Linked DNA regions of Homo sapiens. The protein of the gene in region 1 purifies or fractionates together with the protein of each later gene. This does not show direct contact. Each region holds a gene or a part of one and is shown in the gene's direction. Other genes may lie near its edges. The genes, in order: STAT5B, PUS7L, KANSL3, RPA3, RPRD1A, DLAT and PDHA1.

Region 1 (4,253 bases):
GTCACCCAGGCTGGAATGCAGTGGCGCGATCTTGGCTCACTGCAACCTCCGTCTCCTGGGTTCAAGAGATTCTCCTGCCCAGCCTCCGGAGTAGCTAGGACTACAGGCATGTGCCACCATGCCCAGCTAATTTTTGTATTTTTAGTAGAGACGGGGTTTTGACATGTTGGCCAGGCTGGTCTCGAACTCCTGACCTCAGGTGATCCTCCTGCCTTGGCCTTCCGAAGTGCTGGGATTACAGGCATAAGCCACCATGCCCAGCCTATTTGGGCGAATTTTTAAGGCAACTGAACTATTGTATGTCTAGAGCTCTGCAAAGGCCATTAGAAAATAGTCTCAGATTTTTTTTTTTTTTTCATTTATGATGCTTACTTTCTCTCAGCACTTTTCCTTGGGAGTGGATTGTGAAGTTAAGTCTTGGAAACAGAATTCACAACCCTAAAGCGTAGTGCTTTAACTTTGGGAGATCAAGTCACAGACAAGAAGAACTTCAATTCCCTGTGCAGAGTATAAACTTGTTCAAATAAACAGAGGATGTTAGCTTCCAGGATTGTCAACTGTCACCTTTGACCAGGGTTGAATTTTCTTTGAATGTTGACAGAAGTTACAATGTCAGTGGAAAAAGCTTAATGTGAGGTATCTATAACTCAGAATTTCCTTATGTTTGTGTCAGTGAGATCCTACAATTAAAGCTGCTTCTTTTTTTCTATGTCTGATGAGTTTTAAAAGCCTTCACTGGGGTTTTCCAGCCTTTAGGTGAGAGTAAGTTAAAAAGTTTGTGAGAAACTATTTTTTGTTGTCTAAAATTCAGAGCCTAGGTCGGGCCCAGTGGCTCACGCCTGTAATCCTAACAATTTGGGAGGCCGAGGCAAGCGGATCACGTGAGGTCAGGAGTTGGAGACCAGCCTGGCCAACATGGTGAAACCCTGTCTCTACTAAAAATACAAAAATTAGCCAGGTGTGGTGGTGCACGCCTGTAATCCCAGCTACTCAGGAGGCTGAGGCAGAAGAATCACTTGAACCCAGGAGGCAGAGGTTACAGTGAGCCGAGATCGCACTACTGTGCTCCAGCCTGGGAGACGGAGCGAGACTCCATCTCAAAAAAATAAATAAATTAAATAAATTCAGAGCCTATAGCTGGTGGCAAGTCACTGTTTTTGAAGGAGTGGGATTTTAAAAAATCTAACCTGGGCTAAATGTTAAGTTACATTCATACATGTCATTGTAGCCTATATAAAAAGAAACTTGAACACTTGATCTCTTAAAGTACTAAAAATTGGAATTCATCAGCTTTGTAATATAGCATTCATTCTACAGTATATTTAAATAGGTAAAATGTTCTGTTAGAAATAATGCTAATTCTGTTTTTTTGTTTAATGTTTCTAAAAATCTTTTGGTCATCTTTTAGGTTTAGGAAAAGTAGCAAATTAGAGATCTACAGAAATCTACAGCTCTTTAAAAATGAAACAGTTCACCCTGTGAATTTGTTTGCAGGATTGGTGATCTGTTTCTGATGCCAGGAAGGTGGGACTCCTATCTCATTTCTGATAGAAAGTGAGGGAAAGCTATGTATAGTGAGAACTGGATACTAGATTCTTATTCCGAAGGCATGGAAGGTTTAATATGTAAGGATACAATGTAAATAGTCCCTCTTTTTGTATTTTTCTTTGGTTATTGTTACGTAACTATAGTCGTTTGTCACTTAATGATACATGGTGACAAAGTTCTAAGAAATGCATTAGGCGATTTTGTCATTGTGGTACCATCATAGAGGGTACTTACACAAACGTAGATGGTGAGCCCTACTGCACACCTAGGCTGTATGATAAAGCCTATTGCTCCTAGACTACAAACCTGTGGAACATGTATACTGTATTGAGTACTGTAGACAATTGTAACACAAGGGTAAGTATTTGTGTATCTAAACATATCTAAATATAGAAAAGTTACAGTAAAAACATGGCATAAAGGATAAAAAATGGTACATCTATATAGGGTACTTAACAGGAATGGAGCTTGCAGGACTGGAAGTTGCTCTGGGCAACTCAGTGGGTGAATGGTGAGTGAATGTGAAGGCCTAGGACATTACTGTACATTACTGTAGATTTTAAAAATACTGTCTGGTTAGGCTACATTAAATGTATTTTGAAAATTGTTTCTTTCTTCAATAATAACCTTAGCCTACTGTAATACTTTTACTTTGTAAACTTTTTACTTTTTTTTTTTTTTTTTGAGATGGAGTCTTGCTCTTGTGGCCCAGGCTGGAGTGCAGTGGCGTGATCTCGGATCACTGCAACCTCTACCTCCCGGTTCAAGCAATTCTCCTTCCTCAGCCTCCCGAATAGCTGGGATTACAGGCGTGTGCCACCACGCCTGGCTAATTTTTGTATTTTTAGTAGAGACGGGGTTTCACCATGTTGGCCAGGCTGGTCTCAAACTTCTGACCTCAGGTGATCCACCCACTTTGACCTCCCAAAGTGCTCGGATTATAGGTGTGAGCCGCCGTGCCCGGCCAACTGTTTACTTTTTTACACTTTTAAACTCTTTTGTAGTAACACTTAGCTTAACACATAAACATGTACAGCTGTGCAACAATATTTTCTTTATGTTTTTATTCTTTTACTTTTTCTCTTTTTAAATAATTTTTAATTTTTCAAAACTTTAAAAACTTTTTAATTTTTCAAAACTTTAAAAACTTTTTCTTAAAAGTGAAGGCATAAACACACACATTAGTCTAGGCCTACACAGGGTCAGGGTCATCAGTATCACTGTCTTGCACCTCCACATCTTGTTCCACTGAAAGGTCTTCAGGGGCAGTAACACATATGGAGCTGTCATCTCTTGTGATAACAATGCCTCCTGAAGGACCTGCCTGAGGCTGTTTTACAGTTAACTTTTTTTTTTAAGTAGAAGGAGTACACTCTAAAATAACGATAAAAAGTATGGTAAATACATAAACCAGTAACATAGGCATTTATTATCATTATCAAGTATGTACTGCACGCAATTGTATGTGCTAGACTTTCACATGACTGGCAGTGCAGTGGGTTTGTTTACACCAGCATTGCCACAAACATGTGAGTCATGCATTGCATTACAACATTATGATGGCTACAGCGTCACTAGAGGATAGGAATTTTTCAGCTACGTTTTATTATCTTATGGGACCACAGTGATATATGTGGTCTGTCATTGACTGAAACGTCATTATGTGGTGCCTGACTACATATATGGAAACTCTGAGTGTAGTCATGTTTTACAAATGAGTTTATCTTGCAGTGAGTTTAAATATCAAGTAAAAATACTAATTTCATTGTAATGTATGAAGAGATTGGCCTTTCTCCTCATGTTGAAGGTATCAAAACAAAATAGAAAATATTTGGCTTCCTGAGTGGCATGGCTACAATTCACATGCTGAGTTGGTGATGAGGCAAGATCCCTTGACTTTGCAATACCAGAAAAATGCACATAGTTAAAAAAAAATAGAGACAGGGGTCTTGCTATGTCTCCAGGTGATCCCTCCCACCTCCACCTCCACACCTCCCACCTCAACCTTCCACAGTATTGGGATTACAGGAATGAGTCACTGCACCGGGCCAAAAAGCATATAATTTTAAGGGAATGATTTTTTTTTTTTTTTTTTTATTTTTTGAGACAGTGTCTTGCTCTGTTGCCCAGGATGAGTGAAGTGTGCCAGGAGTGGGTCCTTAAGTAAGAAAACGTATTACTTTAGACACACATTTAAAATTTTGTCCAAAAATGTGATATTCTCAAAATTTATGGTTTTGAATTTTATTTATTATTTTAATTTATTATTATTATTTTTTAAAGAGTGGGGTCTCACTATGTTGCCCGGGCTGGTCTCAAAGTCCTGAGCTCAAGTGATCCTCCCACCTCAGCCTCCAGAGTAGATGGGACTGCAGGTGTGAGCCCCTGAGCCTGGCTAGTTTTGAATTTTTATTACCCAAATGTGAAGAGGTCTAGTTTGCACAGAACTTAACATTACATTCCAGTTTTATTGGTAAATTTGAACAGGATATAAGTGGCTTTAATAACTAATAAAAGAAGATACATCTTATAGATACACATATGTCTTTTTATATGTATACATAAATATTTAAAACTTCTTTATGCCAAAAAATGCCAGAAACCAAAGCTAAGTGACAAAATAAGAAAAATATTTCTAATATATATGACAAAGCATTATGGGTAAATATTCGTAATATATAAGTAATCTATATAAGTAGTAAGAA
Region 2 (4,253 bases), on another chromosome or scaffold:
GATGGTCCAGATGATGATAAGTTACTTGGAGAATGTGGGGGAAACACAGAACTCACTAGTATGGGGCCCCTGGGCAATTTATCTTTCCTGCAGCTCCATATGGTATGGTAGCCATGGGTTTGTGTGAAAAGTGAGAGATCAGAGTACTATTCTCTTGCATAGTGTTTCCAGGAAGCTCTGTAAGGGTTTCTTCTGTCTGATGCCAATGATATAGTTAGAACTTTCCTCTGGCTCAACCTTGAAAGCTTCTATTTGTCCTAATGGGGGCATTAGAGAAGGCCCAGGACTGACTTAATCCTACCTTGAAATATAATCAAATCACAAATTTGTATTTAGAACTTCATTTACCCATCAGTTTTCCTATTGTCTTTTTGTCACCTCTCCTGTCACTAACCACTAATAATATAAGAAAACTTAGCCACATGTTCTCTGGAATTAGCTGGAAATTTTAGGCTCCAGGAATGGAATTTGGACAAATCTTTGTTTTATAGTCCTGTGTTCTCACCTCTTCTTGTGAGCCTACAAATGATATTTTTAAGATAAAATTGACTCATTTTAATCCTGGATAATAGGTACAAATCTGGAGTGAGTGAAGATACAAGTTAACAAATCTTTAGCTATACCAGAAATAGTTTGCCTATTAATTCAGCTTGGTATAGGAGAGTCAAAGTACACAGGAAGTACATATAGTTATAAATTAAGTTAATGATACCATTTAAGAAGACTCAGAATTAAAAGAGAGACAGAATTAACTAAATCCTGCAAACCTATTCCTATTTGGTCATCCATAACTTCTCTTTCTGTTAACTAACCACCTCTTTGTTTTGTTTTCTAGGCACTGTTATAGAAGAATGGAAGAAGATACAGATTATAGAATCAGGTTTAGTTCTTTGTGTTTCTTTAATGATCACGTTGGATTTCATGGCACTATAAAAAGCTCACCAAGTGACTTTATTGTTATTGAAATTGATGAACAGGGACAGTTAGTTAATAAGACCATCGATGAGCCTATTTTCAAGATTAGTGAAATACAACTTGAGCCAAATAATTTTCCCAAAAAACCAAAACTAGATCTTCAAAATCTGTCCTTAGAAGATGGAAGAAACCAAGAAGTTCATACTTTGATTAAGTACACTGATGGTGACCAAAATCATCAGTCTGGTTCAGAAAAGGAAGATACTATCGTTGATGGAACTTCCAAATGTGAAGAAAAAGCTGATGTTTTAAGCTCCTTTTTGGATGAAAAAACTCATGAGTTACTGAATAATTTTGCCTGTGATGTAAGAGAGAAGTGGCTTTCTAAAACAGAGCTAATTGGACTACCTCCTGAATTCTCAATAGGCAGAATCCTTGACAAAAACCAGAGGGCTAGTTTACACAGTGCCATTAGGCAGAAATTTCCATTTTTAGTAACTGTAGGAAAAAACAGTGAAATTGTTGTAAAACCAAATCTTGAATATAAAGAACTTTGTCATTTGGTATCTGAAGAGGAAGCATTTGACTTTTTTAAATATTTGGATGCAAAGAAAGAAAATTCCAAATTTACCTTTAAACCTGATACAAACAAAGACCACAGAAAAGCTGTCCACCATTTTGTCAACAAAAAGTTTGGAAACCTTGTGGAAACCAAATCTTTTTCTAAAATGAATTGCAGTGCTGGTAATCCGAATGTGGTGGTAACAGTAAGATTTCGGGAAAAAGCACACAAACGTGGGAAAAGGCCTCTTTCTGAATGCCAAGAAGGAAAAGTTATATATACAGGTAATTTAATAAATCATCATCCATTTTCTTGGATAAGCTTAGCTAAATTTAAAATTGTGAAAATGAATTGAACAGACTTGGCTAGAGAGATTGGAAAGAATATATGATTTACCTTTAGGGAGAGGAATTGCTGATAAGCAATTTAAGCAACTCTAGGAATTCTTATTTATTCTGTTACTTACTAGAAGATGATAAAACCTTTTAAATTACACTGAATTTAAAAATTAGCCTTACTGATAACCTAGGCATTTATATTAGCCTATTCACAAATGTATAAAGTTGAAGCAGTTGGTTCGTGTTTAATAAGTTTTATTGAAGGTAAATCTTGATTTCATATTTTGGAAGTCATCTCAATTAAAATTAAGTTTTTAGAGACTAGAAGAATATATTTACTGTGCTTGGGAAAGTGAAGAGATACTCTGTAATCCAAAACAAATTATATTTCCCTACCCAAGGTAGGGAACCTGAAAACTTGGTCCTGCTGGTCTTTAGACAAGATGTTCTGAAACTTTAGCATGCATATAATCATCAAAAGTTCTTGTTAAAACAGATTTCAGAGCTCCATTCTCAGTTTCTGATTCTGGGGCTTTCACAGATTTCCAGGCAGTGTTTTTTCCTGGTCTGCTATGTTTTGAGAATCACTGTTTTAGGGTCTGTGTTTAATTCCCATGGTGGCTGGAACTGATGAACTCTCACTGTAAAAGTCCAGCTGACTAGGTTTAATTGGCCTCAATTCTACTTGAAGGATGGGAACTGTTTCAGATGATCATATTTAATAAATTTATTTAGCAAGATATTTTAAGATAAAACCAGGAACCTAAATTTGCACAGTGACACAGAAATAGGATGGTGCCATGTAGGGACTACAGGTGCAAATGAAAAGAGTTTGGACCTTGGAACTATGTGGGTTTGATTTGATATTATGACTTTTAGTTCACAAAAAGACTTATGAAATTTTTAACATGTTTAAGATTTGATTTCACAAATGTAAAAATGGGAAGAATAATACCTTGGGCAAGTTACTTAATAATTCATAACTTTTGGTTGTACTTGAAAAATAGGGTAATAGGAAAGCCTGACTCACAATGATATTCGAAGGATTAAATGAAATAATGAAATTGTTTACTATGTAATAGTTACTTAATATTAGGCATATAGTAAGTGTTAACAGATATATCCATTTTGAAGGAAAAACAATACTAGCTTTACTTGTAGAAAGAGGAATTGCTGGTGAGTGATTTAAGCAGCTCTAGGAATTCTTATTTATCTTATACTACTTGAAATTCTAACAATATTAATTTGGGTTAATGAGTAAAAAAATTATAGAACTTTATATATTAGTTTAAATTCACTTTTCTAAAGTTGTGAATAGTTGGAGGCATATGTTAAAAGGAGGAATGATGGTTCAAAAAACCTTTTATTTTTAATTTTAAATTACATTAAAATATACATAACATAAAATGTACCATCTTAACCATTTTTAAGTATCAGTGGCATTGAGGACAGTCACATGGTTGTACATCCCTCACCACCATTCATCTCCAGAATTTTTTCACCATCCCAAACTAAAACTCCATATTTATTAAACAATTCTTCCTCCTCTCCAGTTCTGAAAAATGGGAACCACCATTTTTCATTCTGTCTCTATGGATTAGACAACTCTAGGTGTCTCATATAAGTGGAATCATACAGTATTTGTCTTTTTGTAATGGGCTTATTTCACTTAGTATGTTGTCGAGATTCATCTATGTTGTAGCATGTGTTAGAATTTCCTTCCCTTTTAAGGCTGAATAATACCCCATGGTAGGTGTATGCCACATTTTGCTTACCCATTTGTCTGCCAGTGGATGGGATATAATGGTCAGTAAAGCACACGTGATATTTACTTTGTAAGCATTCAGCCTTGGAACTTGGAAAGAATTTGAGGGAGAATGTGGATGTGAGGTGACTTCTGAGGCTAGGTCATAAAAGTATTACACTTCTTGTCATGTTCTTGGATTGCTCACTCTGGGGAAAGCCAGCTGCTATGCTGTGAGGATACTCAAAACAGCCCTTTGGACAGGAACTAGAGCTTCATGCCAACAGCCAGTACCAACCTTCCAGCCACGTAAATGAGCCCCTTTGGGAATGGATCCTCCAGTTTCTTTCAGGCTTTTAAATAACTGCAGCCCATCAGAGTGAACAGGCAACCTACAGAATGGAAGAAAATTTTTGCAATCTACTCATCTGACAAAGGGCTAATATCCAGAATCTACAAAGAACTCAAACAAATTTACAAGAAAAAAACAACCCCATCAAAAAGTGGGCAAAGGATATGAACAGACACTTCTCAAAAGCAGACATTTATGCAGCCAACAGACACATGAAAAAATGCTCATCATCACTGGCCATCAGAGAAATGCAAATCAAAACCACAATGAGATATCATCTCACACCAGTTAGAATGGCGATCATTAAAAAGTCAGGAAACAGGTGACAGGTGCTAGAGAGGA
Region 3 (4,253 bases), on another chromosome or scaffold:
GCTTAAACAATCCTCCTTCAGCCTTCCAAAGTACTGGGATTACAAGTATGAATCACTGTGCCTGGCTATATTTGTCATTTATTTATTTATTTTTTGAGACCAGCTCACTCCTGGGCTTAAGTGATCCTCCTGCTTCAGCCTCCCAAGTGCTGGGATTACAGGTGTGAATCACTGTGTCTGGCTGTATTTGTCATTTATTTATTTATTTTTGAGACCAGGTCTTGCTCTGTCACCCAGGCTGGAGTGCAGTGATGCAATCATGGCTCACTGCAGCCTTGACTTCCCGGGTTCCAGCAGTCCTCCCACCTTAGCCTCCTTAGTAGCTGGGATCACAGGTGTGTGCCACATGCCCAGCTAATTTTTGTATTTTTGGTAGAGACAGGGTTTCCTCATGTTGCCCAGGCTGGTCTTGAACTCCTGAGTTCAAGCAATCCACCTGCCTCGGCTTCCCAAAGTGGTGGTATTACAGGTGTGAGCCAGTGCACCTGGCCCATATTTATCTTAAAAAAAAAATAGATGTTTATCATTTTTTATATAGACTCATTGAAAAAATGACTTTGTGTTCTTCCAGTACATACCATCATGTCTGAGAGGGCAGAGATCTAGACAAGTGTGGGAAAGATGACTTTGGATCAAAATTTTCTTGTGAATATAATGTGCTTATGCGTAATTTAAAGCTGACTGTATTAAAGATACATTTTTTGTCAACCAGATGATTGTTAAATACCTGTGAAGTATGTGTGGCCCGGTCCTATTTCCTCACCTGTTTACAGTGAATCAGACGTCCCAATAGATGTGGAGACGGTCACATCAACGCCTATGCCACTCTATGACAATCAGAAGGCACGCAGCGTGATGAATGAGTGTGAACGGCATGTCATCTTTGCCAGGACTGATGCAGATGCCCCTCCTCCACCAGAGGACTGGGAGGAGCATGTCAACAGGTAGGCTGCTCATCAGGAGGATGATCACTGCCCTGTAATTATTTTGTATCATCTTCATTGAAATAACACTTATTAGGACCTTATTTCATTTGCAGCAACACAAGTCAGAGTGTTCTCCAAAGTCTCACATTATAACTCTCAGTTCACCATGCTGTGTGTGAGCTCCTTGAGAGTAGGGCTTACATCTCAGCCATCTTTGCATACTTCACACTAGGACGTTGTCTGGCACACAGTAGGCATATAATGTTTGTTGAATAAATAAGTGAATTAAATTTGATACATATGACTAGCTCTGTAGTAGCTTCTGTTGTATAAGTTATGATATAGGGGTTACCCAAACTGCAAAAAAATGAAATGTACATTTGTAAGATATTGTGTTTAAATGGTTTATAACTAGGATGATGGAAGTTGTGAAGTCACATGAAAAGCTAACAGATGTTTGAGTGGCTTTTAAAAATAGATTTGCAGGCTATGGAGGGCACACTGAAGCCTATTTTCACGAGTATACTGGCTAGTTTTGTTCCCAAGCTTTCTACTGCCCCCAGGGGACTCAGCACTCCTCTCCTGGTTATTTGTCCCTGTTCATTTGGTAAACATTTACCTAATTACATAACAGCTTTTTGGGGATATTATTTACATACCATACAATTCAGCTATTTAATATGTACAGTCATTGGTTTTTAGTATAGTCAGAGTTGTATATTCATCACCACTATCAATTTGATAAACATTTTCATCATCCTAAAAAGAAACCTCTTACCCATAAACAGTTACTTCCCGTTTCCTCCCAGCTTCTCTGGTCCCTAGGAAGCACTAATTGACTTTTGTCTTTATAGATTTGCCTATTCTGGACATTTCATATAAATGGAATCATGCAATATGTGGTCTTTTCCTACTGGCTTCTTTCACCCAGCATGATGTTTTCAAGGTTTATCCATGTGGTTGCGTGTATCAGCACTTCATGCTTTTTATTGCCAAATGACATTACATTGTATGGATAGCCCACATTTTATTTATTCATTAATCAGTTGATAGATATTTAGATTGTTTTCATTTTTTGGCAATTGTGAATAATGCTATTATGAACATTTGCATACAAGTTTTTGTGTGGATCTAAGTTTTTAATTCTCTTAGTTATATACCTGGGAGTGGACTTGTTGGGTCATATGATAACTCTGTATTTAACCTTTGAGGAATTGCCAGACTGTTTTCCAAAGTGGCTGTACCATTTTACATTCCTACCAGCAGTGTATGAGAGTTCTAGTTTCTCCATATCCTTGCCAACACTTACTGATTTTCTTCTTTTTTAAAAAAATTATAACCATTCTACTGCGTGTAAAGTGGCATCTCATTGTGGTTTCAACTTATATTTTGTTGATGGCTTTTTGTCTGTGTATCCATATATCTACTATATATATAAGGAAATGTTACTTCTTATATCAGGAGTTGGTAGGTGGTAACTTTCCATAATTTTGGAGAACCCTTATTTTATAATAGAGAGAAAGAGGGGTAGAAAGTTTGAGGTGATTGACATGACTTCTGAAGCTGGTTGGAAGTTGGGAATGAGATTGAACAGGTGTGCTTGTGTGATCAAAACAGCAGCTGTTGAGGGAGGAGCAGTTCTGCACCTTGGTTGAAAAAGCTTGTGAAGAAGTTGGTTGGGGTCTTGCATTGGAATTAATTTAGTGCCTTAAGAAGCTCTTTTCTCACGCCTGTAATCCCAGTACTTTGGGAGGTTGAGGCGGGTGGATCACCTGAGGTCGGGAGTTCAAGACCAGCCTGACCAACATGGAGAAACTCTGTCTCTGCTAAAAATACAAAATTAGCTGGGTGTGGTGGCGCATGCCTGTAATCCCAGCTACTCGGGAGGCTGAGGCAGGAGAATCACTTGAACCTGGGAGGCGGAGGTTGTGGTGAGCCGAGATCGTGCCATTGCACTCCAGTCTGGGCACCAAGAGTGAAACACCATCTCAAAAAAAGAAAAAAAAGCTCTTTTGAGCTTCAGATAAAGAAGAAAACTGCTACGAATGAAGATCAACTACTGGAATATTGCTAGAGTCAGTATATTCAGCAAAAGGATTTATCACTATTTTTACAGTTAATAATAAAAAATAACGACGATGGTAATAACAAAAAGGAGCTACCGTTTGTTGAGTGCTTTCTAGGTGCCAGACATTGTATCAATGTCTCTTCAAATGCATTGTCTCTTAATCCTCCCAATGACTCTTGGAGGTATATCCCCCCTTCATCTCTGCTCAACAGGATGAAGAAACTGAGCTCAGGGTGTTTAAGAAACCTTAATTAGGAAGTGATGGAGAAGGATTTTGTTCAAACCAAGCAGCCTGACTCCAGAACCCAGTGTTCTCAACTACCATACCCTCTGCCTTAATTAAGGGCAGTAAGAAGAGATTAAGACCAGTTAGTGGTGGCTGAACAAGGTGGCCTGGTATGGTTATGTATCCCTTTGTGGTATTTTCTACTACCTTGTCCTTTGCAATTTCAGAAAGTACATAGGAGAACTGTGTGATTTTTTTTTTTTTTGTCAGTTTATCCATGGTTATGATTAAGAGGTTTTTGTGGACAATTCATACTTATCAAAGTCATTAGAGACTTAATAATACTATAAATACCAGTTTGTTTCTTTTTTCTTTTTTTTGAGACAGGGTCTCACTCTGTCACCCAGACTGCAGTGCAGTGGCACGATCTCAGCTCACTACAAGCCTTGACCTCCAGGACTCAGGTGATTCTCCCGGGTGGGAACCTTAACCTCCCAAGTAGCTGGGACTACAGGAGTACGTCACCATTTCTTAATTTTTGTAGTTTTTGTAGAGATTGGGTTTCACCATGTTGCCTAGGCTGGTCTCAAACTCCTGGCTCAAGTGGTCTGCCCACCTTTGCCTCCCAAAGTGCTAGGATTATAGGTGTGAGCCACTGCACTTGGCTGAGTTTCTTAATTTATAAGGAGAGATATAACTGCAAAGCATAAGAGACACTGGGGTGGCCTGGCCAGAGTGTCTGTTCTCAGCAGGAAAGTCTGGAAAACCATTTTATTTCAGAAGTGAATAGATGAGTGGAGAGTCTACACAGGAGGCACAGCAGAATAGCTGGATGTACACATCTTTCCTCTAGGCAAGATGAGTCCACGGAATAGGCCAGTGTGCACCTTCTCCTGCCTGTCCTTTAGAGAAACACTGACAGATTCTTGTCTTTGGCTTATCTTTCTCCAGTCTCCTTGTGGACCACCACCCTTCTGTTATGACATTGCCACATTGCCACAGATTGATGTAATCCATTAAAGCTCAATTTATC
Region 4 (4,253 bases), on another chromosome or scaffold:
AGACCATGCAGTAAGACCAAAAGATAAAATGAAACCACAAGGATTTGAATGAAACAAAACTCACTATTCACAGAGGTTATAATTACGTACTTAGAAAATTCAAAAGAATCTAAAGATGAATTATGGGAAGTAAATATTTTATCAAGATGGTTGCTACAAGTATCAGCTACATGTTTCTATGCTGGCAACAAACAGAAAATACAACTTTAAAAATATTTACTATAATAATAAAACAAAAAAGCACTCTAAGAATAAATCTGACAAAAGCAGAAATGTGATTTTTATGAAAAATGCATGGCAATTTTACAAAAATGTATTAAGGAAACCTAAGCAAATGGACAGAAATATATTTCTGAAGAAGACTAAATATTGTAAATATAGCAATTCTCCCCTAAATTAATCTATATGTTCAATAAAATTTCAACAAAAATCACATCAGAGTGGGTAGGTTTGAGTGATTATCCATCTGTTATTCATTTTTTATTTATTTGGCATAAGATCAACTGATGCTTCATTATATAGAAAAGCAGAGAACAAAGGAAGGTTGAGATGGTTTTAAAGGATGGTAATATAATGAGCTTTATGACATTGGCTAAGAGAGAGAAAAATAGCCTCATAAAGTAGGAGAACCAAAGATACTATATATGTAAGAGTAAGCTTGGAAGATACGTGAAGAAAAGAAGATGAATTAATCCAAAATAGTACTAAGAAAATAGGTTATCCCTACAAAAAAAAATTAAAATCGGATCGCTATACCACACTATAACCAAAGTTAACCATAGAGCTATAAGAAGATGCTATAGGAAGATGACTTTCTGATCTCCAAGAAGGGACTTTTTAAATCAGACTGAAATATGAAAGTTAAGGAAAAGTTTTATATATTTTAAAACTGTCACATCAAAATGTCTCTTCATTAACAGATAAAAAGAAAAACATAAGTCATTAAAATGCAACAAAATTTGTAACTAGATCCCCTTAGAATCAACTTTTTAAATGACAGACAATACAGCAGGGAAAAGAGATCAATAGTGATTTTACTGAGCAAAAAAACCACATATGACTATTAAACATAAATAAAAATGTCCAATTCCATTATAAACAAGAAAATGTAAATTAAAAACACAAGATACCATTTTCTAACCAACAGACTGATAAAAATTTAAGTCTCACAGTATTACATGTTAAAAAGGATAGAGTATAATATCCTTGAAGTACAATATCCTTAAAAAGGATAGAGTATAATATGAAAAGGATAGAATTTTCATATACCACTTGGGAAAAAAATTTGCCATGATTTACTAAAGTTAACATGTGCATAGCCTGTAATTCCTCCCGGAAATAAAATCTAGAGGAAAGCTCACATATGTGCACCAGGAGACATGTACAAGGATGTTTGTAACAGCATCATGTTGTCTTTTAATTGAACTTTTTCAGATAATTCTAGATTCACAGGCAGATTGGAGAAATTATATGGAAATATCCCATGTAGCTTCTACCTGGTTTACCACAATGGCAACATCTTGCAAAACTATAGTTCAATACCACAACCAGGATATTTCATTCACACAGACCAGATACAGAACATCTCCATAACCACCAGAATCCCCAGTGTTATCCTTCTATAGCCACACACACTTGCCTCTAACTTTCACCCCATCCTTACCCACCGGCGACCAATGATTTCTCTATTTTTTGTGTACAGTTTGGTCATTTCAAGAATGCTACATAAATGAAGTCATACAGTACGTTACCTTTAGGGATTGGCTCTTTTCACTCAGCATAATTCTCTGGAGATTCATCCAGGTTGTTGTATATATCAACAGTTTGTTACTTCTTCTTGCTGAGTATTATTCCATGATATAGATATACCATAGATTTAACCATTCACCTGTTGAAGGATATTTGGTGTGTATCCAGTTTGGGTCTATTATGAATAAAATTGCTATAAATACTCAGTTTTATGCACATATACGTCTTCAATTTCTCTGGGATAAATGCCCAAAGTGTAATTGCTGAGTCGTATAGTAACTGCATATTCAGCTTTTCAGAAACTGTCTATTTTCCAGAGTAATTGTACCATTTTACATTCCTATCATCAATAAGTGATCCAGATTCTCTTCATCCTTACCAGCATTTGGTGTTATTACTATTTATTTTAGCTATTCTGATACAGGTTTGTAGAGACCTATCATTATGGTTTTAATTTGCATTATGGCTAATGACACTTATTCATGTGCTTATTTGCCATATGTATATCCTCTTCAGTGAAATGTCTCTTCATGTCTTTTGCCCATTTTCTAATTTGGTTTTATGTTTTTTTGTTTTTTGTTTTTTACTGCTGAGTTTTGCAAGTACTTATTCTAGGGACTAGTCCTTTCATTTTGGGCAATTTTTGCATAAAGTGTGAGACACAGATCAAGGTGTTTTGTTTTTTCTTCTGCCTACTAATGTTCAGTAACAGCACTGTTTTTAGGAAAACAAAACAAAACCCCAAATGTTCATCATCAGAACAGATATATAAATTGTGGTATATTCATCAATGGAATGTCAAATAAAAATGAAAGAACTAAAGATACATAGAGCAATATAGATGAGACCAGATACATGATACTGAGTGAGAGAGGCAAATTGCTGAAGAACATATTGTACATACATTGTGAGTGACTCGATTTATATATGGTTGTAAAACATACAAAACTACACATATGAAAAATATGTTAACACTATTTAAAAAGAGACCCCAAAAAAGCAGAATTTAAAGAGTGGAATTTACCTCTGAGGTGGGAGTAAGGAGAAGACTTAGAGAACTTCAAGGTTAACAAGAAATTATATTTCTTAAACCAATTGGTGGGTACACAGGTGTTCATCACATTGTCATTCTGAATATGTTCTCATTATTTAAAAAAAAAAACTTTAAAAGGTTATTTTTCAAATTGAGATTTGCATAAGCAAGAGCTAAGAATAATAGCTGGTAAGATGTCACTTTAAAGATCTTACCCTCAGCAGGTAAAAAAACAGTTATTATAAATTGTAATACAGGAACATACCAAACAGACCCTTGTTAGGGAAAGATGACTTCTGAGCAAACAGGTGACTTCTGACAAACCATTCTTATCCCACAAGCCTCATTTTGCCCTTGCAGGCTCAGCGCCTGACTTTTCTTTCAACTTCAAGTCCCCCAGTCATTCACCTTCTCTCCACACAGTTCCTTCTGCTTTGTTTTACAGCATTCTGCCCTCCTCGGGTGGCAATGCTTTAAGTCAACACCAACATCTGACCTCTCCAGCTTATCCACAGGACTTATCTTCTTAAGAGATGGTGTGAGGACAAAGGGTGAGCCTTCCTGACTTGAATTAATGACGACCCACAATTGAACAAGTTTCTAATGTTCATATTTACAAAGAATATAGTCTAGAATCTCAGTTAAATCCATATTAAAAGTAACCCCATGCATAACATTATTCACACATATAATTGAGATAAATCTCAGCACACAGATAGGAAAACAAAGACAGTCAATTTCAAACAACTAATAAAATTATTTAACCATTACAAAATCCCTTAACCATGCCGAATTTTGCAAAATATCTAAGAAATTATTATGCAAGACACTGAAAGATGTGTTATTAAGTAGTTAATTGGTATTTTTAATAGTTAGGACTGTTTTCCTCTTCTGTCTTCTCCTCCTCTCCTCTTTTCCTCCCACACTTTCTCCCTTCCTCTCCCTTTCTCTCTCTCTCCCTCTCTCTCTCTCACACACACACAGACACACAAACACAAACACACACCCCTTGCTGGTTAAAAACTTCTTAAAAACATACAACTGCCTGTATTTGTATATATACATATGCATTTGGTGTCTTGTTATAACTTCCCTTTAAACCACATATTAATGGGCAAAAAAAGTCCTAACATTCTATCTGTTGAAAAGCTGGGTCTGTCTCCAATAAACATAGTTGCTCGTTTCAGTCAAATCAGCTTATTTACTAATTATAAAATATAATTTTAAGATGGCCAAAACGAAGTAGTAGGAAAAGTATATTACTACTTTAATGGAATTTGCTTCTATTTTTGAGGTCTGTCCCAAAAGGACAAATATGTTGACTTATTTTTAAAGGTTTCCTTTCAATGTTTCAAGTTATAAAGCACTGCTGCTTTTGTAAAAGATCCTATTAATTTCTTAACAGAGTGTTAGACCTGATCCCCTTATATCCAAAATGGTAAATGCTGTCTAATAAATACATGGGTGATTG
Region 5 (4,253 bases), on another chromosome or scaffold:
AACCCCGTCTCTACTAAAAAATACAAAAAATTAGCTGGGCGTGGTGGCGGGCGCCTGTAGTCCCAGCTACTCGGGAGGCTGAGGCAGGAGAATGGCGTGAACCTGGGAGGCGGAGCTTGCAGTGAACCGAGATAGCACCACTGCACTCCATCCTGGGTGACAGAGCGAGACTCCGTCTCAAAAAAAAAAAAAGTAGTGTTAGAGTGATATATATGTGTTCATACATTTCTTTGTAACTATATAGAACTATGTAATTCTGTGGAAAAATAAGTTAGAATTATTATCTTAACACTCTGTGTCCTCCTACATGTTGGTATGGTATGGTATTCCTTAACCATCAGATTAATTCCAGAAAGACTTTTTTTTTTTTTTTTTTTTAAGTGGGCATTGAGTCTTTAAGCTTCCTCCTTCTATGTTTCAAACATGTAGGCGGGACAGATAAAGTGTAAAATGAGAAAATGAAGACATAACCATACTCTTAAAACAAGGCGAATGTATTTTCATGGGTTAGAAATTGTACACCTAACTTCATAGGTGAGACAAAACCTGGCTCCTGCTGAGCCCTGGTCCCGAAGCAGACATGGGGTTGCCAGAAATTAGTATCCTTTAAGGTCACAGGAACTCACAAGGGCAACAGGAACTCACAGTGCTCCGTGGGAGTTAGAGGACTGGTTCCAAATTCACTGAATAAAATCAGAGGCTGGGAGGAGCTCTTTCCCCCATGAAGGTGAAAGAAAAATACAATCAATTACTACCTGTAACTGTGGATTTATATTAGTCTCAGTACTGGAGAAGCAGAAGGAATCAGACCAAGGCCACGACCTGAGTCAGCCTACCTGTTTGTTCAGTGATAGGAATGCTGAAGCCCATTGGCCACTATGGACAAGAGCTTGAATAGAAAAGTGATAAGAATGTTACATTTGGAACAACCAAACACTAAGATTTATGTCTCTTCCTATTTGGTAATAACTCATGACAGAAAATCATTTTTGGCTAAGAGCCTCATGATTCTATGAACAGTGTTTTACCTAAGTTCTAGATAAAGGATCTGGTCTCCTTCCGCTCTCCCTGATGAAAGGGTAACCACAGTTGCATATCTTAGGAGTATTTTTAAGTAATCATCTGCCTCTCCTCTAGTACTTGTGTAAAATGCTGTTGCTCTTTGTTTTATAATGATCGTTTTTTAGATTAGTTGTGCTGCTTAATTATCAATGGTTCAGCTTTGTGGTCTTCATTTTTGTGTGTGTGTTATTCTTTATAAGAATGGCTAAAATCTCTTTGTAGGTTCCCGTTAAACTCATTTCATTCTCCTCTGGTAGGAAGTAGTAGGCTTAGTATTGTTTCAGACAACTTTGCTTTCTTATCTGATGCTTGATCAGGCATTGGGAACTTAGAATGTACTCATGTAGGACTGTGAAGGTGTGATGAGATCAGGTTGTAATTAAAGCATCAATGCATTGCCAAGACAATAAAGCCAGATTTCTTCTTAGAACTCCAGACAATTAGAATTTTCTAAGAATGATTTTAAAAATAATATATTAGTTGTGGCAAGATGAGAAACAAGCTTTCTGGTAATTGTTGTTACTCTTAAGCACACCTTAATTGTAGAGGGGATATATCTTACAACAAAATTATTTTTTAAAATACTGAAATTTTAAACACTTCTAATGAGTGAGCACACGTAGGATAGTATATTTCTTATTAGTTTCATTCATTCCTACCACATTTGATCATTTGTCATGTGCTACCCTTTTTTTCAAGGGAATAGTTTAAAAATCTTAATATATACACAGAATTACTAATATCCTATATTTTTTAAAGCATATGTGTAATTTCCTAGTGTTTCTGAATCTAGTATTAGAAATTAAGAAAGAAAGATGAAAAAGATGGGCTGGAGAATGGAAACTAGTAAAAATAAAATTTAATTGTTTTTCTTTGGAATAACTTTATAGACATTATGAGTTGTGAAATCACCAGCAAAGAGTTGCGCTTCCCTCCTAATTATAGCTTGTATGAAAACAGTGGAAGTAAAATATTTTAATGATAAAATAATTTCAGTACTGGTTAAGCAATATATATTAGTCATCAGATTATGGAATTTTGAAATATTTTAATCTTATTAACAAGCCATAGGATACTTGAAGATATCATATTTGAACATATTCTAGAACTACATTTCTCTTGGGCTTTAATTACAGCATTTAGAAATGAAATCTGGGAGACTCTTCTGTGTTGTAGTAGATGATTTGTAACCCTCTTTCCATAATATCCAATTTAATACTAAAAAAACTTCTAGTGTACAATGATAATGTAATGAATATATCATACATAAAACTTGTATTCTCTAGGTTGATGTTATAGCCTACCTTCTCTTTCACCACTGATGTATTTGCCATATAAATCCTCATTACCTCATTTTAGTACTCAAATAATTATTATTACTCTGTCTCCACCACTGGAGTAAGCTCTCTTCAAGGTCTAGGGCCTTGTCCTGTTTATATTTTCAACACCTAACATAGTATAGCCTCCTTTTTTCTTAACATATGAAAGAAATTGATTGTCTTCAAAAGCAGTTTATATTAGGAGCTTTGTACTAGTAAATAGCCCATAGGGATGAAAGAATATGAAATTAAAGTCTTTTGCACTTGTTTAAGCTCAATTTATTTTGGTTCTGAAGTTGTGTACTTTTTAGACTCTAGATCTCGTTAGAGCATTACAAGATCTGGAAAATGCAGCCTCAGGTGATGCAGCAGTTCATCAGAGGATAGCTTCTTTACCTGTTGAAGTCCAAGAAGTATCTCTATTAGATAAAATAACAGGTAAGAAAAGAAAATGTGATCCAGAACTTTTTTGGGAGTTGGGATGAGAGAACAGCATATGTCATTGTTTTTGTTGTATAATATTTTATTATCCCGTGCTTTTCTTAGATAAAGAATCTGGAGAAAGGCTTTCCAAAATGGTAGAGGATGCGTGTATGTTGCTGGCAGATTACAATGGCAGATTGGCGGCAGAAATAGATGATAGAAAGCAACTCACTCGAATGTTAGCAGATTTTCTTCGTTGTCAAAAGGAAGCCCTTGCAGAGAAAGAGCATAAATTGGAAGTGCGTAACCTTTTTCTTCTTTAGTGCTTATTTATTTAATTCTCTTTTTGTTAGGAATTTTAAAATATTTTAATCTATGTGCACATTTTGCATTTTTTAACATAGACCTTTTTAAGCAGTAGCCCAGGTAAGCTTCTCCTTGTATTAATGGTTTTTCTTCTACTTGAACCAAATTAATCTTGCAAGTAAACTTAGAAATTTGGAATTAGCAAAATTGATTGCATTTAAAAATTATTCTTGTGAAATTCCATGCAACTATAATTTATCTTACCAGTTTAACCCTAATGTATCACAGAAATAATAGGAAAATAGCAGGTGGCAGTCACTTGTAGTAGGATTTATTTAGTTTCTGTTTTGAGAAGATGTAGTCTTTTAGGTATACCATTAAGTCTTTAAATTACTCCCTTAATTCCACCCGCCAATTCTAATGCTTACATGTTCCAGCCCCACTCCCGGCTCACACTCTTAGGCAGAAATTCATTGCTCCTGTAAATTAAGTAATAATTAATACCGCTAATGAGAAATCTGGGAGTACAGGAGGTGATTTTAAAAAATGCTCGTATTTCCTTTGATTAGAGTAGCAATTGTTAGGGATACATGAGCCAGATTTGGTTTTATGTAAAAAAAATCTTTCAGTTGATGAGTTCTTGTTTAAATTGTATTGCTGTGGCAATTTCTTATTGTAATAATATGTAGGAGAATTTCTAATTTGAATCCCTTTATTTACAGAAAGCTCACTGTAAATTTGTAGGAATGTCATGGTACTACCCCATTAAGTTATTTTTATTAGTGTTTAGTTATTGATTCAGCAGTCTCTAATTGTGCCAAAAATGGTGCTTAGATTAGATTGCCATTGCTACCCATGGGAGCTGCTACTTAATTATTCCCACCTCAAATTCCCAGCTCTCAAGTTAGCACTACTCCTTTGCAATTTACTCCTTCTCTGCTCGTATAAATACCCTCAGATGATGATAGTTGGTGGCCACTATACCTTTGAAGAGGTTGCCCACTTCTACATGGAAAGGAAAAGATGGTTTTTTTTTTTAAAAGATGAATTTGATAATTAACTTGCCACTATTTCACCTTGTGATGAAACCTCAATTTTAAACATAGTGTTAATTGTTTTATTGTCCACAGAATTAAGGGTAAG
Region 6 (4,253 bases), on another chromosome or scaffold:
GGCTGGAGTGCAGTGGTGCAATCTTAGCTCACTGTAGCCTTGACCTCCTGGCTCAAGCCATCCTCCCACCTCAGCCTCCCAAGACGCTGTGACTACAGGCACGTGCCACCATGCCCAGCTAATTTTTTTTTTTTTTTTTTTTTAAGAGATGAGGTTACATCATGTTGCTCAGGCTGGTCGTGAACTCCTGGGCTCAAGTGATCCTCCTGCATCAGCCTACCAAAATGCTGAGATTATAGGCATGAGCCACCATGCTGGTCTTTCCTGTTTTTTTTTTTTTTTTTTTTTTTTTTTTTTGAGACAGTCTTGCTCTGTCACCATGGCTGGAGTGTAGTGGCACGATCTTGGCTCACGGCAACCTCTGCGATTCTCATGCCTCAGCCTCCTGAGTAGCTGGGACTACAGGTGGGTGTCACCATGCCCAGCTAATTTTGGTATTTTTAGCAGAGGAGGGGGTTTCGACATGATGGCCCGGCTGGTCTTGAACTCCTGGCCTCAAGTGATCCGCCCCTCCCAAGTGATCCTTGGCCTCCCAAAGTGCTGGGATTACAGATGTGAACAGCTGTGCCTGGCCTCCTGTTTTATTTTTTTGAATGATCATCATGCCACTGCACTCCAGGCTGGGCAACAGAGTAAGACTCCATCTCAAAAAAAAAAAAAATTATCAAATAAAATTCTGTGTAAGAATTCTGTGTACATATATTATATACAACAAGTTGTTTTGAAATATGTATATATTGTGGAATGGCTAGATTGAGCTAATTTATATATGCATTACTTTATAGACTTATCTTTTAGGCCACTTAAAAATCTACTGTCAGGAATTTACAAGAATACAATACATTGTTATTAACTATTGTCACCAAATAATGTTTTTTTTTTTAATATGGAATGCTTCACGAATTTGTTGTCCTTGCGCAGGGGCCATGCTAATCTCTATATCGTTCCAATTTTAGTATATGTGTTGCTGAAGCGAGCACAGAACAGTTCTTAATATTACGTTTTTATCTTGGAAAGATATCTGGTAAGGTTGGGACAAATGCAGTTTCCTGTGGGTAAAAAATAGGTAGATGCTAAGTACAGAGCGCAGTAAAATTTTAACAGAATGGTTTGGACCAAGGTCATTTTGTGAAAATGAAAAACTTCTTGGTTAAAAAAAAATGAAGTCTGGGCGCGGTGGCTCACGCCTGTAATCCCAGCACTTTGGGAGGCCAGGGCGGGCGGATTACTTGTGGATGGGCGTTCAGAGACCAGCCTGGCCAACATGGTAAAACCCCATCTCTACAAAAATACAAAAATTAGTGGGCATGATGGCACCCGCCTGTAATCCAGCTACTCGGGAGGCTGAGGCAGGAGAATCACTTGAAACCAGGAGGTGGAGGTTGCAGTGAGCCGAGATTGCGCCATTGCTCTCCAGCCTGGGGGACAGAGCAAGACTCTGTCTCAAAATAAAAATAAAAATAAAAATAGATGAAAAGATGCTCCATACTTAGATGTTGAGAAATTAATTTTGACTGTCTGAAAGAAATCTTTCCCATGTGCTTGTTGCATTTAACTTGGAGTGTGTGTTAGAGTGTGGGCGAGAGTATAAGAGTATGGGTCAGAGTATGAGATTTGAAGGATGATTTACCTGGTGGGAAGCTATTGAGGTGTGAAGCTTTTGCTGTGGTGAGTATTTGGATTATCATAGTCACCATCATTCTATGAAACCACATAAGTCTGCCAGACTTTTATTATGTAGAAGTCTTCCTGGTATTAAGCAATAATATGTGTTTGTTTCTGCAGGTACTTCTTCCTGCCCTCTCTCCCACCATGACCATGGGCACAGTTCAGAGATGGGAAAAAAAAGTGGGTGAGAAGCTAAGTGAAGGAGACTTACTGGCAGAGATAGAAACTGACAAAGCCACTATAGGTGAGATTTCTTCAGCTCTTAATGGTTGAGGCACTGAGTTTCCCAATGAGGAAGAGGATTGCCATTCTTTCCTATAATGAGTGAGTGATAATATGAAAACTTTATAATTCTTAGGATTCATTTTCTGGGACAGAATATTTTATTTTTATTTAGTTATATGTATTCTTTAGTTTTTATTTATTTATTTGTTTATTTGCTTATTTTTCAGACAGGGTCTTAATCTGTTGCCCAGGCTGGAGTGCGGTGGCAAGATCATAGCTCATTGTAGCCTTGAACTCCTGGGCTTATGCCCAAATGATCCTCCTGCTTTAGCCTCACAAGTAGGTAGGACTACAGGCCTGAACCACCACACCTAGCTGATTTTTTAAATTTTTTGTAGAGATGGGGTCTCACTTTATTGCCCAGGCTGGTTTTGAACTCCTGGCTCAAGCGATCCTCCTGCCTTGGCCTCTCAAAGTGCTGGGACTCCAAGCGTGAGCCCCTGTTCCTGGCCCAGCATAATTTATAACAAAAATAATGCGTAGTCAGATTTGTCAGTTCCATCCTGTGCTCACTGAATCAAAGGCAATCAATCTGTCAATTCACAGATTATTTTTAGGCCCAAGTTTGCTTCTTGGCCTTATTATGTTACTGAGAAGCTATATCAGAATTGCTGCTGTCTAAACTAGGCAAAGGAAGTCAAGAAGAAACAGGAGAAAATCACTTCCATGGCAGGATAATAGCAAAGAATTTAAGATGACTTTGAGGGAAAACTGAAACCAGGGTTGAGATTGTTTTCATAGTTTGAGAATGACTGATAGAATGTATGTGTGTAATATATATATGTTCAGATATGTCATATGTCCACATATCTCCTTCTTAATTCATTTTTAGGCTAAAAAAACCCATATAGACAATAATATATTTATTATTATTATTTTTTTTTTTTTTGAGACGGAGTCTCGCTGTGTTGCCCAGGCTGGAGTGCAGTGGCGCAGTCTCAGCTCACTGCAAGCTCCACCTCCTGGGTTCACGCCATTCTCCTGCCTCAGCCTCCCGAGTAGCTGGGACTACAGGTGCCCGCTGCCACGCCTGGCTAATTTTTTGTATTTTTAGTAGAGATGGGGTTTCACTGTGTTAGCCAGGATGGCCTTGATCTCCTGACCTCGTGATCCACCTGTCTTGGCCTCCCAAAGCGCTGGGATTACAGGCGTGAGCCATGGCGATTTGTAGTATTATGAATTTCTTCTCTCTGCACCCCCGCTTTTTCTTTTTTTTTTTTGAGACAGAGTTTTGCTCTGTCACCCAGGCTTGAGTACAGTGGTGCGATCTTGGCTTACTGCAGCCTCCGCCTCCTGGGTTCAAGCAATTCTCCTGCCTCAGCCTCCCGAGTAGCTGGGACTACAGGCATGCACCACCATGCCTGGCTAATTTTTTGCATTTTTAGTAGAGATGGAGTTTCACCATGTTGGCCAGGCTGGTCTCGAGCTCTTTAACCTCAGGTGATCTGCCTGCCTCGGCCTCCCAAAGTGCTGGGATTACAGGCATAAGCCACCGCACCCAGCCTCTCTGCTTCATAATCACCACCAAAGGGAAGCCTTTCCCAAAGATGTAATGGGAGGTACTGGGCATCCTCTGCCTTGGTTGTTTTCAGATTGTGTTCTTCAAATCCCATCATTCCTTTAAGGCACCTTGAGGCAAAGGGGGAATTAAAGAGCAGGACCTTACAGCCCTGCCTCCCTGCCTTACTTCCAGCAGAGCAGTTCTTTTCTATCTTTTTGTATTTTGTGCTTCCCCATAAATTTTATTTGAAGAAAGGATTCTGTTTCTTAAAAACACAGAAACTTTGGAAACAGTAGTTCTGCTTCACCATTTAACTTGAATACCAGTGTCACTATAGAGACTAGTCACTAGAGAAGTGTTACCTTGGTTGAACTTTGAAGTCTATTGTGGCCCAGGAGCCTTTTCATTTTAAACACTTCTTTTTTTTTTTTTTGGAAACAGAGTCTGGCTCTGTTGTCCAGGCTGGAGTGCGGTGGCGTGATCTCGGCCCACCACAACCTCTGCCTCCTGGGTTCAAGCGATTCTCCTGCCTGAGCCTCCTGAGTAGCTGGGACTACAGGTGCATGCCACTACGCCCGGCTAATTTTTGTATTTTTAGTAGAAATGTGGTTTCACTATGTGGGCCAGGCTGGTCTTGAACTCCTGACCTCGTGATCTGACTGCCTTGTGCCTCCCAAAGTGCTGGGATTACAGGCGTGAGCCACCACCGCACCCAGCCTTTTTTTTTTTTTTTTTTGAGATAGAGTCTTGCTTTGTCGCCCAGGCTGGAGTGCAATGGCATGATCTTGGCTCACTGCAA
Region 7 (3,997 bases), on another chromosome or scaffold:
AGTGTGATCTTGGCTCACTGCAGCCTCTGTCCACTGGGCTCAAGCAATCCTCCCACCTCAGCCTCCCGAGTATGTGGGACCACAGGTGCACACCAACACACCCAGCTAATTTTTGTATTTTTTGGAGATACGGGGTTTCACTATGTTGCCCAGGCTAGTCTCAAACTTCTGGGCTCAAGTGGTCCGCCCACCTTGGCCTCCCAAGGTGCTAGGATTACAGGCGTGAGCCACTGTGCCTGGCTGAAGCCAGTATTTTAGAATTAAAAAGTAGAATGCCAAAACCTGCTATGAAGCTTAGGCTAAAGAATTCATTCACACATAACATTGCCAGTTTTCTGTACCTGTTCTTAGAGTTTTACTATTTTAAAACTTTCTGGCACTATGATCGCCTGTACTGTATATAATTTGGAGAGAAAGGATTAGTTTGTTTTTTGTTTTGTGGGCTTAGGTCAAGGGTTAGAGTCAAATACCTACAAGGGCCAGCCAGGTAGAATAAATGAGTGAAGAAGGCTAGGTATACAAAACAGAAAATGGTGACAGGGACTCATGCTGAACTGGCACCAGCATGCCCTACCCAGAGGAATGCCATGACTTGGTTCCAGCCAGTTGGTGCCATGTGGAAATCAGGGGTAATGTTTCCTGTTTTCCATGTCTAAGAGAAGGCGGAAGTCTGGATTTTCATGTGAAATTCCCCAGTGTTTTAATGTTGACATCTGATGTAGGCTTTTCTTTTAGGTCATCATACAGGAGAAAGGAAGGAAGTGGCACATGTGTGGGTTGCCAGTTTATTGCTTCTGGTTTGGGCCTTCCACTCTGTATTTTGGTGGAAAATAGCTACTTTCTCTGGTTATTAATGACAGGTTCTACTAGCCCACATATTTCACTGTGGTCTAGGAAACGTTTTTATTTAGAAACATGTATCATATTGCCTCATAGTTTCTCCTTCCTCTAACACAGGAAGCTTGCTGTGTGGGCCTGGAGGCCGGCATCAACCCCACAGACCATCTCATCACAGCCTACCGGGCTCACGGCTTTACTTTCACCCGGGGCCTTTCCGTCCGAGAAATTCTCGCAGAGCTTACAGGTTTGCTGTTGATTTACAGAAAGGGGAAATGAGTGGATTAAGTTTTTAAATATCTGTCATTAAGATGCTATTATGAGTTAATATTTGTTAAAAATTTTAAGTTTCTTTTTTTAACCCTCTCTCCTTTGGTGCTCTGGTACTTCTGTTGTGCTCTTGAGTTAACTGACCATTTGTGAAGTTCTCTGGCCCCTCAGGTAAAAGTTTAAAACAGGTTGGTGCTATAAAATCACAGTAGGTTTGGTTATCATTCAAGCATGCCAGAAGAAGTCTAGCAGTCATAGAAAGTAAGTTCGGTTGAAGCACTCCATGGTATGCAATGTAAATTCTAGAAATCTTCTTAATATTCCCCTTTTCTTTGTCCCCCGTGACTATTTGTTTGTTTTGGTGGTTTTTTTTTTTTTTTTTTTTTGAGACTGTGTCTCACTCCGTTGTCCAGGCTGGTGTGCAGTGGTGTGATCACGGCTCACTGCAACCTCCACCTCCCGGGTTCAAGTGATTCTCATGCCTCCACCTCCTGAGTAGCTGGGACTACAGGCATGCACCACCACACCTGGCTAATTTTTGTATTTTTAGTAGAGATGGGGTTTCAACATGTTGGCCAGGCTGGTCTCCAACTCCTGACCTCAGGTGATCCACCTGCCTTGGCCTCCCAAAGTGTGCTGGGGTTACAGGCGTGAGCCACCGCACCTGGCCTGTTTTGTTTTTTTGAGACAGAGTCTCGCTTTGTTGCCCAGGCTGGAGTGCAGTGGCCTGCCTCAGCCTCCCAAAATGCTAGGATTACAGGCGTGAGCCACTGTGCCCGGTCCTCCTCCTCCTCCTTTTTTTTTTTTTTTTTTGAGACAGAGTTTCACTCTTTCACCCAGGCTGGAGTGGCTGGAGTGAAGTGGTATGATTTTGGCTCACTGCAGCCTCCGCCCCCCGGGTTCAAGCAATTCTCCTGCCTCAGCCTCCTGAGTAGCTAGGATTATAGGTGCCCAACCACCACACCTGGCTAATTTCTGTATTTTTAGTAGAGACCAGGTTTCACCATGTTGGCCAGGCTGGTCTTGAACTCTTGACCTCAGGTGATCCACCCTCTTCGGCCTCCCAAAATGTTAGGATTACAGGCGTGAGCCGCCGTGCCCGGCCCTCCTTGACTCTTGAACTATGGTTGTCCCTCTATATATCCAGGGGATTGGTTCTAGGACCCTCGAGTATACAAAAATCCTCAAATACTCAAGTCCCAAAGTCAGCCTTCCATATCTTCGGGTTTGCATCCTGAGAATATTCTATTTTCAATACATGTGTGGCTGAAAAAAAATCTGTGTATAAGTGTACCTGTGCAGTTCAAACCCTGTTCAAGGATTGAATATATTTAGTGTACTAGTATAGGAGAGGTCCTAAGATGTTTGTAACTGGCCAGAAAACCCAGAAAAGTCCAGGGTATCATCTGGATGGAACATCTGAAGGAAACTAAGTGACTAGAGAGTAGGAAAAGCTGGAAAGGTTGAAGCACATGGAACTAGTGAAAGGACAAGGAGAAACATGTGTTTGCCTGGAGGGACAGGTACTTAGACGACTGAACTGGCCTCTGTGTTCTAATGGTTGAGCCTCAGAGTACATATTTGGGGTGCGGTTTGGTTTGCTTTGTAGAGTTGGTTTGTTCTGCACATGTGTATGTTCTGCCATTTCCAGGACGAAAAGGAGGTTGTGCTAAAGGGAAAGGAGGATCGATGCACATGTATGCCAAGAACTTCTACGGGGGCAATGGCATCGTGGGAGCGCAGGTAGTCAAGGACGAGGATTGTGTGCTGCTTTAGATTTGGCCCTGGACTTTGTCTTCAAAAACTTTCACAGCCCCAGACAACTTTTCCTGAAGTAGTACAGCCATGTGCTGCACAGTGACGCTTTGGTCAATGTCGCATATATGATGTTGGACCCATAAGATTATAATGGAGCTGAAAAATTCCTGTCGCCTAGTGATGTTGTAGTGGCACAACACATTACCTTTTCTACGTTTAGGTACACAAATATTTTGCCTACAGGATTCAGTAGAGTCACATGCTGTGCAGGGTTGTAGCCTAGGAGCAGTAGGCTCTACTATACAGCCTAGGTGTGCAGTGGGCTGTACCATCTAGGTTCGTGCATTACAGTATGGTGTTCACATGACAAAATCGCCTAGTGATGCAATTCTGAGAATATATCCCTGTTGTTAAGTGACGCGTGACTATTTTGGGGGCTTGGTTTGCTTTTAAAGACCTAGTGCTTCATATCCTACCGTTTGAGAGATGAGTAGATTTGGATGGTGATTTATAATGTTTCCTTTTAGGTGTCTGCTGTTTTATAAGTAAGCAGGAACCTCTAGCAGTGGAGCCATACCTTCCCCTTCCTATTTATATTTCAGTACATTAATTGCTTTATCTTGTCAACTTCATTTTGGGGTCCTTGTTCTCATCAGTTAGTGAATGATGAAGAATTAACAGCACAAAATTATATCCGGACTGTTTCTTTTCCTTTCTAATATATTAAGATTCTATTATGTGTTGTTTTTTTTTAAACCTAGGTTTTATTTTTCCTTTTGAAATGGAGTCTTGCTCAGCCGCCCAGGCTGGAGCAGTGGTGTAATCTCAGCTCACTGCAACCTCCACCCCCGGGTTCAAGCAATTCTCCTGCCTCAGCCTCCCGAGTAGCTGGGAATATAGTTACGTGCCACCATGCCCAACCATTTTTTGTATTTTTAGTAGAGACGGGGTTTCACCATCTTGTCCAGGATGGTCTCGATCTGTGGACCTCGTGATCTGCCCAAAGTGCTGGGATTACAGGCGTGAGCCACCACGCCCGGCCAGGTTTTATTTTTTAACTCTTGAATGCAGAAATGTTAGTGCTTACTGGTTAAAATAGAACATAGTATTTATATATTACTTTAGTGCTTTA

What was found.
Region 2: the proteins of STAT5B (region 1) and PUS7L purify together in Homo sapiens (affinity purification with mass spectrometry; one large-scale study listed by BioGRID and IntAct). This does not show direct contact.
Region 3: the proteins of STAT5B (region 1) and KANSL3 purify together in Homo sapiens (affinity purification with mass spectrometry; one large-scale study listed by BioGRID and IntAct). This does not show direct contact.
Region 4: the proteins of STAT5B (region 1) and RPA3 purify together in Homo sapiens (affinity purification with mass spectrometry; one large-scale study listed by BioGRID and IntAct). This does not show direct contact.
Region 5: the proteins of STAT5B (region 1) and RPRD1A fractionate together in Homo sapiens (co-fractionation; one large-scale study listed by BioGRID). This does not show direct contact.
Region 6: the proteins of STAT5B (region 1) and DLAT purify together in Homo sapiens (affinity purification with mass spectrometry; one large-scale study listed by BioGRID and IntAct). This does not show direct contact.
Region 7: the proteins of STAT5B (region 1) and PDHA1 purify together in Homo sapiens (affinity purification with mass spectrometry; one large-scale study listed by BioGRID and IntAct). This does not show direct contact.

The regions. Positions count from the first base shown.
Region 1 is NC_000017.11:42,265,938-42,270,190, reverse strand, and holds part of STAT5B (signal transducer and activator of transcription 5B), read left to right. Parts: exon of another isoform or gene 1-1,905; intron 1,906-4,253. UniProt on the Homo sapiens protein: Carries out a dual function: signal transduction and activation of transcription. Mediates cellular responses to the cytokine KITLG/SCF and other growth factors. Binds to the GAS element and activates PRL-induced transcription.
Region 2 is NC_000012.12:43,751,844-43,756,096, reverse strand, and holds part of PUS7L (pseudouridylate synthase PUS7L), read left to right. Parts: intron 1-835; coding exon of another isoform or gene 836-851; coding exon 852-1,761; intron 1,762-4,253. UniProt on the Homo sapiens protein: Pseudouridine synthase that catalyzes pseudouridylation of mRNAs.
Region 3 is NC_000002.12:96,628,003-96,632,255, reverse strand, and holds part of KANSL3 (KAT8 regulatory NSL complex subunit 3), read left to right. Parts: intron 1-712; exon of another isoform or gene 713-773; coding exon 774-944; intron 945-4,253. UniProt on the Homo sapiens protein: Non-catalytic component of the NSL histone acetyltransferase complex, a multiprotein complex that mediates histone H4 acetylation at 'Lys-5'- and 'Lys-8' (H4K5ac and H4K8ac) at transcription start sites and promotes transcription initiation.
Region 4 is NC_000007.14:7,708,440-7,712,692, reverse strand, and holds part of RPA3 (replication protein A 14 kDa subunit), read left to right. Parts: intron 1-4,253. UniProt on the Homo sapiens protein: As part of the heterotrimeric replication protein A complex (RPA/RP-A), binds and stabilizes single-stranded DNA intermediates that form during DNA replication or upon DNA stress.
Region 5 is NC_000018.10:36,025,750-36,030,002, reverse strand, and holds part of RPRD1A (regulation of nuclear pre-mRNA domain-containing protein 1A), read left to right. Parts: intron 1-2,692; coding exon 2,693-2,819; intron 2,820-2,927; coding exon 2,928-3,103; intron 3,104-4,253. UniProt on the Homo sapiens protein: Interacts with phosphorylated C-terminal heptapeptide repeat domain (CTD) of the largest RNA polymerase II subunit POLR2A, and participates in dephosphorylation of the CTD by RPAP2.
Region 6 is NC_000011.10:112,031,619-112,035,871, forward strand, and holds part of DLAT (dihydrolipoyllysine-residue acetyltransferase component of pyruvate dehydrogenase complex, mitochondrial isoform 2 precursor), read left to right. Parts: intron 1-1,785; coding exon 1,786-1,912; intron 1,913-4,253.
Region 7 is NC_000023.11:19,350,324-19,354,320, forward strand, and holds part of PDHA1 (pyruvate dehydrogenase E1 component subunit alpha, somatic form, mitochondrial isoform 1 precursor), read left to right. Parts: intron 1-936; coding exon of another isoform or gene 937-957; coding exon 958-1,084; intron 1,085-2,758; coding exon 2,759-2,850; intron 2,851-3,997. UniProt on the Homo sapiens protein: The pyruvate dehydrogenase complex catalyzes the overall conversion of pyruvate to acetyl-CoA and CO(2), and thereby links the glycolytic pathway to the tricarboxylic cycle.